Regions from separate parts of the Homo sapiens genome. Here region 1 is linked to region 2. A link means that fine-mapping ties the variant in region 2 to the expression of a gene that starts in the linked region. Tissue or cell type: pancreas. Region 2 holds a variant in brackets; the other region holds the start of a gene. All regions are shown on one strand. Distances are from middle to middle.

Region 1 (4,000 bases), 50 kb after region 2:
CCCCCGCCCGGCACGTCCAAAACTCTCATTAACAGGTCAGCTAATCTTATTACGAGAGGAACCCTCCCTCCTCCGCTTCCCAGAGTGTGGGCGGCATGAGGCCACGGAAGCAGCTGCTGCAACTAGCATTTCAAAATCCAGAGACTTTCTAATGGTGGCAGGGGGTGAAAGGGTAGGGGGGAGGCAGGGTTGGGACAGGTAGAGGTAGGTTCTTGGGGACTTCCAGTCTTGGGGACCAAGCGCTTGGAACTAGCTGGGTTTGGGCAGAAACAAGAAGGCAAATGACGGGACCGCCGCCGGAGTCCGGACTTCCATCCCTGGAGTTCACTGTCTCTCCCAGGGAACAGAGGAGTGTCCTGGTTTCTCAGCAATGAACCAGGAGAGTGTGAGAAAGAGCATTTGTTTCTTCTCCCGTGGCCCGACAAGCCACTCTTCGGCAGTTCTGCGAGCAGATTAATTGAAACGGGCCTGGAACTTCATCCTCTCCTCCCGATGGAGTTGCTGGAGGTCTGCGGACACTGCCTGGTTAGCCTCCGGGACCACAGCGCCGTGGGCTTTCCCTCGTGGTGTCTGCCTTAAACTTGGGTGCTATCAATCTATCCAACAATGACGGATGACCTTGTCATAACGACGCCAGTCAAAACATTTTCGGTCTAACTCTCTTCCAACCAACATCGAAGCATCCTGAATGAGACCCGGATGAAGTCTGAACAGCACGTTTCCCAGGTTCAGAAAACTTGAGTGGTGGGAAGAGAAAAAGAAACAAGCAGAAATCAGGAAAGAATGGCTATTAATTGCTCAGATTGGCAAGTGCTAAATAAGTTAGGTTGTTTGGAAAAAGATAAATGCCGTTTCTTCTCTTTACGGTATGGCCAGAACCCCGGCGATGGGAAAGTACCTCCTGAGTCGGTCAATTTCACACACCCTGCCTGTGCCCTCTACCATCTACTACCGAAAATGCCAGGAAGAGCTGGGGGGCAAGTGCCTCCTTCGTGGGTGCGAGACTGCATCGAAGGGCTGCCCTGGCACAAAGTCTGGGGAGAGGACATGGTGGAGGTGGGGCTGCACTCCCACCCTGCCCCTCTAACACCAGGTTTTGGGTAGAGAAACCTATGCGTGACCTCCTGCGGCAGCCGCAGGCAGCTGACCGCAAACAGCCTCGCCCGTGTCCCGGAGCAGTTGTGCCACCAGACGTAACACTGGATACTTGTCTCCGGGCCCCAAGAAGGAGAGGGAAAGAGCCCTCCAGAAGACAACCCGAGAAGGGGTCAGCAGAGCGCTGGGTGGAGTGCAGACTCCATTGCAGCCGCCTCCCAGCCCCACGGCCAAGCTTGAGTCCCTCCAGGACCAGCTGCTCTCGGTCTCAGGACCCTCGGTCCTACGCCTCCCTGCACCGACAAGCCTCCCTCCTGGGCTGCAGACAGAGGGTTTCACTGCAGCGCGCAACCCGTCCCGCTCCGCCCCCAACTTTTCTCCCCGGAGGATTTATGTTAGAGGTTGCGTGGCGGGCGAGTGGACTCTGGCACCCAGAAGCACTTCAGGAAAAACTGAGCCGGGCAAAAGCGCAAACCCGGTCCTGGCGGCGCGGGCTTGCTCCAGCGCGGACACCACAGCGTGTGCGGAGATGCATTCCCGTTGCCGCATTTCCACTGCTTTCAAGATCAGGGCACTGAGCTGGGACCCAGAAAAGACATATCATGGGCAGAAAGAGACAACAGGCTAGCGGCAGACGTCACGCCAAAAAAACAGGGGATGGGAGGGCGGAGGAGTTTGTGCGGGAAAGGCGCTCTGGCGATGTGGGTCGGGCCGAATTAGAACTTCCTTCTTCCCTCTCCCCTCCCCTTCTTCTGGCCTGCCTCCCCTCCCCCCTCCGTTCTCTCTCTCTCTCTCTCTCTCTCTCTCTCTCTCTCTCTCTCTCTCTCTCACACACACACACACACACACACACACACACACACACACACACACACACACACACACACACACACTCACTCTATTTTGTGCTGTCGTAAAACCCACGTGTCCAGCCGGGAAGCTGCCAGAGCGTGGAACCAAGGAGCCAGGACGCGGCAGCGGCCAAGCGCAGCAGCCCACGGCGGTTGAGTCGGGCGCCCAGGTCCGTCCGCACTCTCGCGCCCTCCGCGGGCCTCCCAATTTTCTCGCTTGCAGGTCGGGAGGTTTCCGGGCGGCACAATCTCTAGGACTCTCCTCCCGCGCTGCTCAGGGGCATGTAGCGCACGCAGGGCGCACACTCTCGCGCACCCGCACGCTCACCGAGACACCCGCACGCACCCACCGGCAGCACCGAGTTTTCAGGTAAGGTGAGGCTGGTCTGGGACTTAAGAGTCTAGGGCTTGGTAGATAGGAAGGTTGGTGGTCCTAGGTTGGGGGCGGGCGGCGAGACTGTTCTGCCTCCTGGCGCCTGAGGCCAACGCGGCTCGGGCGCTGCGCCACGCCGGCTCGGGTCGGCTCCGGGCGCTGGCTGAGGGCGGGGGCTGCGTCCTGCAGCCGAGTTCTACGGGGCAGCGCCCTCCTGTCGGGCCCCAGCATTGCTGGATGGGAGCTGGACGCTGCGATCGGGGAGGCAGAGCAGGGTGCACACAGCTCCCTCTGTGCGGCGCCGCAGCTTCGGAGTAAACTTTGCGCCCAAGCGGAGTTGGGAAGAGGGAGCCGCGGAACCGGGCGGCCGCCGGCTGAACCACCGGCTCGGGCACTTTCTCCAGGGTCCCAGTGGCCCTCTTCCCGGCCCCTTTCGCCCAGCTCACGCGCCCCCTCTTCCCTGCCCTCTGCCCCCAGTTCGAGGCGCCGGACATGCTGAAGCCCGGAGACCCCGGCGGTTCGGCCTTCCTCAAAGTGGACCCAGCCTACCTGCAGCACTGGCAGCAACTCTTCCCTCACGGAGGCGCAGGCCCGCTCAAGGGCAGCGGCGCCGCGGGTCTCCTGAGCGCGCCGCAGCCTCTTCAGCCGCCGCCGCCGCCCCCGCCCCCGGAGCGCGCTGAGCCTCCGCCGGACAGCCTGCGCCCGCGGCCCGCCTCTCTCTCCTCCGCCTCGTCCACGCCGGCTTCCTCTTCCACCTCCGCCTCCTCCGCCTCCTCCTGCGCTGCTGCGGCCGCTGCCGCCGCGCTGGCTGGTCTCTCGGCCCTGCCGGTGTCGCAGCTGCCGGTGTTCGCGCCTCTAGCCGCCGCTGCCGTCGCCGCCGAGCCGCTGCCCCCCAAGGAACTGTGCCTCGGCGCCACCTCCGGCCCCGGGCCCGTCAAGTGCGGTGGTGGTGGCGGCGGCGGCGGGGAGGGTCGCGGCGCCCCGCGCTTCCGCTGCAGCGCAGAGGAGCTGGACTATTACCTGTATGGCCAGCAGCGCATGGAGATCATCCCGCTCAACCAGCACACCAGCGACCCCAACAACCGTACGTAGCCGCAGCCCGCGCGCTCTCTCCCGGGGCGCCGGCGCCGGCGCCGGCGGGCGCGGGTGCCTGTCAGGGAGGCGGGTCGGATAGGAGTGACACGGGGCCGGGTGGGTGGGGAGCACCTGGTCCTGGCCGCTGGCCCGCGCCTCCCCGATCTCTGTGACAAAAGTTTTCTGGCGTTGGAGAAGGAAAGAGAACGGATGGGACGGCCGGTGGCACTTTGGGGTTCCCTCTCCCTCCCTCTCCTCACCTGCTTCACAGTCCCAAGTGTTTGGGGCCGGAGTCTACCGTGGACCCGGCCTAACAGACCTCTGCCCTCCCGCCGGACAGTGCCCGGGGCCAGGCGGGTACTGGCAGCGTGTGACAGGGGGTGTCTGGGTCAGGCCCTGCCTGGCCTTAGCCGGGACGAGGGAGGGACCCTCAGCGTCTCTGGGGAGCACGCAGACCAGGGCTTGTTTTTGCTACTCTCCACCCCACCTCTGGAGGGGTCATTTTCGGGCCGCGGGGTTGTGGGGGAACCGGCGGGAGCTGTTCGCTGGCCAGGCCTCACTGGAGTAGGAATTTTAGATGAAACTGAGTCCGTTTCTCCTTGAAGGC
Region 2 (4,000 bases):
GGCCCATTGGAACCTTTTGCTAGGTTTTGGACGCTTAGCAGAACTTTGACATCGCTGGAGGCGTGGAGCCCTGTTGCACTCGAATAATGGCCTCTCTTTGAGATGATTCACGTCTAGGGAACACTGGAAAATGCTGGATTCACAGTGCCCCTTTGCCTTCGAAAAACTTTTACATTGGCTTTAAGTACTTTATTTGGAGGATGATTCTGTGATCTTATCTACACTGTTCACAAGGCAGCACTTACACAGGCCCAGAACCATGGTCATGTAGGATTCTTTCCTGGGGAAACAAAGTAAATAAACTGACTTTTAGGTGTATCTGTAGGATGGATTTTTTACAAACTTAAGAATTATGTTTAGGAAGATTAATGACTGGGGAAGTAAGTTCTTATTATATTTTTAAATGGAAAATTCGGGTTGCAAAACCACAAATTCTGATCTCAACCGTGAAAATAAATATATCAAGGCACTTAAATATTGAAAGAGATGTACCACAACGTTTACAGTAGCTATAGATAGAATTGATAGCTATTGATAGACTTATGGATTTTTGAGGGTTTAAAAAAATTTTTTTTACAGTTTTCTGATTTCCCAGATGTTCTACAATGAGCATATAAGTATTTTATAACATGGAAAGGGTTATTTTAAAACTCATTGCTTTTTGAATTAGAATTTCAAAAGAACTTTTTTGTTTTAGAGTAACAGCCCTAAAATTAACTAAAAATTAGTGGTATTCGCACATAGGTGCCATTTTAAGGGGCTGGTGCCATTACTTTCAAGCCAAGATTTTCCTCGGATTAAGAGATGGAATTTCTAAATGTCAGATGGGATTCCTAGGTGTACCTAAGTGTAGATCTAAAATGACATTGGAACCATTAGAGATAAAAGGAGTAACCACTACTTCTTTGGGGTGAGAAAAAGGAGAAATGCAATTCTGAGCTATTTTTATGATTCAGTCCAGTGAAAGACCTAATGGCTTTCCTCTTCATCCCCACCCCCAATAAGGAAAGAGTCCCCCTTGTGTAGCAAGACAAGGGTATCTCTCAGAGCACTTACCCTACGAGGTGACTGTGAGGTGATTGTATATATTTATCTGTGTTCATTAATTGTTTTTGTCTGTCTGCTATCAGAAGTAAGCAGGGCCAGGGCAGGGATCAGGCCTATATTTATTCCCCTTTGATGACCCAGATCTAGTGCAATGCCTGATATATAGTGATTTCTCAATAACTATTTGTTGAATGAATGAATGTGTCCAACTACTTTTTATGCTACCACCATCTCACCCTCTAGGCAAAGAAATGAAATCTTTCCCAGCTCCCTAGAAACTCCTCTTATACCCTCTGCCAGTTACAAACACTTTTTTCTGCCCAAATTAACTGCAATCCTGACTTTTCTTGTACTATAGTTTAATTTTGTTTTAATTTTATTTGAATAGGGTATTACCGTATGTATTTCTTTTTGCTTAAATTTTTGTGAAATTCATCTATATTTTTGCATATAACTATTTTGGTGGCTAATACAAAGTAGGAAGCAAATTCATTTTTTTCATAAGAATATTCATTTATTTCAGTACAGTTTATTGAAAATTCTCCCCTTTAACTCACCGCTCCATACTGTTCTTCTGTCA[C/T]AGAGCAAGTGCCCATGTATGCATAGGTGTGTTTGTGGGCACCCTATCTGTCCCATTGGCCTATTTGTCTGTCTTTGTGCCAATACTACATTGTCTTCATTAAAATAGCTTTATAATAACTCTTCATATTCAGTAATACATACCCTCTTAGCTTTGTTCAACAAATTCTTGGCTGTTCTTGAGCTTTTCCATGTCCATATAACTTGAGAATCAGCCTGTCAGTTTCCACACACTGAGATTTTGATGGGGATTGCACTGCATCTGTAGACCATTTAAGACTTGGCAAATTTACAATATTGAGTCTTCTAATTCATGAACATAGCATATTTAAGTCTTCTTTGGTTTCTCTCAATAAGATTTTATAGCTTTCTGCCCAGAGGTCTTACACGTATTTTATTAGTTTGATTTCTAAGTGTTTTTTTATGCTATTGTCATGTATTGTAGTAAAATTAATTTATATATTAACTTTGTATATACCAACCTTGTTAAACATATTCTAATAATTTATCTGTGAATTGTTTAGGATTTTCTCCATAGACAATTATGTCATCCATGAATAATGACAGTTTTATTTCTTCTTTTCTAATCTTTACATTTTGTATTTCTTTTTTGGCCTTTTTACACTGGCTGGGATCTGCAGTACAAAAGGAAGTGGCAACAGTGGGAGTCCTTGTATTGTAGACTGAATTATCCTCCAAAAAGATATATTGAAGTCCTAAACCTTGGTATCTGTGAATGTGACCTTATTTGGACTGCCTTTGCAGACGTAATCAAGTTAAGATGAAATCATACTGGAGTAGGGTTTGCCCTACTCTAATATGACTTGTGTCCTCATAAAAAGGGAACAGACACAGACACACGCACAGAGAACACCATATGAGGATGGAGGCAGAGATTGGAGTGCTGTATCTACAAGACAAGGGATGCCAAAGATTGCTGGCAACCCCCAGAAGCTAGGAAGAGGCAAGGAAGGATTTGCCCCTAGAGCCTTCAAAGACAGCATGGCCTTGCCAACACCTTGATCTCAGCTGCTAGTTTCCAGAACTGTGAGACAATGCATTTCTCTTGTTTGAAGTCACCCAGTTTGTGGCACTTTGTTACAGCAGCCCTAGGGGGCTCATACACCTTGTCTTGGTCCCAGTGTCAGAGGGAAAGCTTCAGTGTTTCACCATTAGGCATGATATTTGCTGAAGGTCCTTTTGGGGGATATCTTTTTTCAGATTCAGAAAATTCCTTTCTAGTCCTTGTTTGCTAAGAGTTTTTAGCATATATTTGATTTAAATTTTATTAACATCATCTATTGAAATCAATTGAAATAATTATGTGATTCTCTTACTCTGTTAATGTGATGAATTGCATTGATTTTCAAATCTTAACCCAAGCTTACATTCTGGAATGTGTCCAACATGGATTATCCTTTTTATATATTACTAGATGTGGTTTGGCAATATCAGTTTATTAACAAAGTTGCCAAAAACTGAATATAGACTATCTTCTGAAGTTCAGGAAGAAAAGAGTGGGTAAAATGTGGCTCTGGCTGTCCAGCTGAGACTGAGTTCGTCACCCACATGTCATTTCAGTGTTAGTGGGTAAATCTGCTAATCTTATTTTCAGGATATTTGCATCTAAATTCTTGAATGAGACTAGCCTGAAATTTTCCTTTATTGGAGTTTCCTCTCAGCTTTTGTATTAGAGTTGTTCTGGCCTCTTAATATGAGTTGGCAAATGGTAGCTGTTTTTCCCCTACTCTTAAAGGGTTTGTGTAAGATTACCATTTCTTCCTTGAATGTTTCTTAGAAGCCATCTGAGCCTGGAGTTTTCTTTATTGTAACATTCTAAATTATATATTTAACTTTTAAAATAGTTGGAGATTATTCAAATTCTCTATTCTGTTCCTTTACTTGAAGTATTTTTCAAGGAATATATCCATTTTATTTATATTTTAAAATATTGTTTTATAAAGTTGTTTAAAACATTTTTTAATGATTTTGTAGGTCTGCGGGACCTGTAGTAATGTCTTCTTTTTCATTCCTGACATTGGTTGTTTCTTTTCTTGTTTTCCTTGAACAGTTTCACCAAGGAAGCTGATGAATCCAATATATTTTATCTTATTAATTTATGTTCTAACTTTATTATTTCCTTCTCTCTGCTTTCTTTGAGTTTAATTTACTGTTATTTTTCTGTCTTCTTGGATAGACTCTTAACTCATCAATTTTTAAAGCCCTTCCTTTTTTTATATAGTACTCTGTATACAGTTAAAATGATAAAGTTCCCCTTGCACTTCTTGAACGTTTTGATATGTCATATTTTCATTATTCTTTGAAAATAATTTCTAACTTATATTTTTATTTCTTTTTTGACCCATGTGTTATA

Which allele goes with the higher level. Alleles are on the strand shown, and positions count from the first base shown. SD is a standard deviation of normalised expression in the study named.
As copies of C replace T in region 2, the expression in pancreas of the gene that starts at base 2,038 in region 1 goes down (small effect, 0.37 SD a copy in GTEx).

The links.
Region 1: it holds the start of PRDM6, and the variant in region 2 is fine-mapped to the expression of PRDM6 in pancreas (GTEx, PIP 0.94).

The regions. Positions count from the first base shown.
Region 1 is chr5:123,087,204-123,091,203 of GRCh38, forward strand. PRDM6 (PR/SET domain 6) reads left to right here and starts at 2,038. Exons shown (of 8, transcript NM_001136239.4): 1 at 2,038-2,316; 2 at 2,797-3,403. The coding sequence starts at 2,812. It overlaps PRDM6-AS1 (PRDM6 antisense RNA 1), which reads right to left and starts at 3,113. Exons shown (of 2, transcript NR_146771.1): 1 at 2,869-3,113; 2 at 1-736. RefSeq lists enhancers at 688-1,232, 1,233-1,777.
Region 2 is chr5:123,037,137-123,041,136 of GRCh38, forward strand. The region is part of intron 1 of PPIC-AS1 (PPIC antisense RNA 1); the gene reads left to right. Among named protein-coding and RNA genes, the nearest start is that of PPIC, 2.4 kb to the left of the region's middle. The variant C/T (reference allele first, on the strand shown) is at 1,628.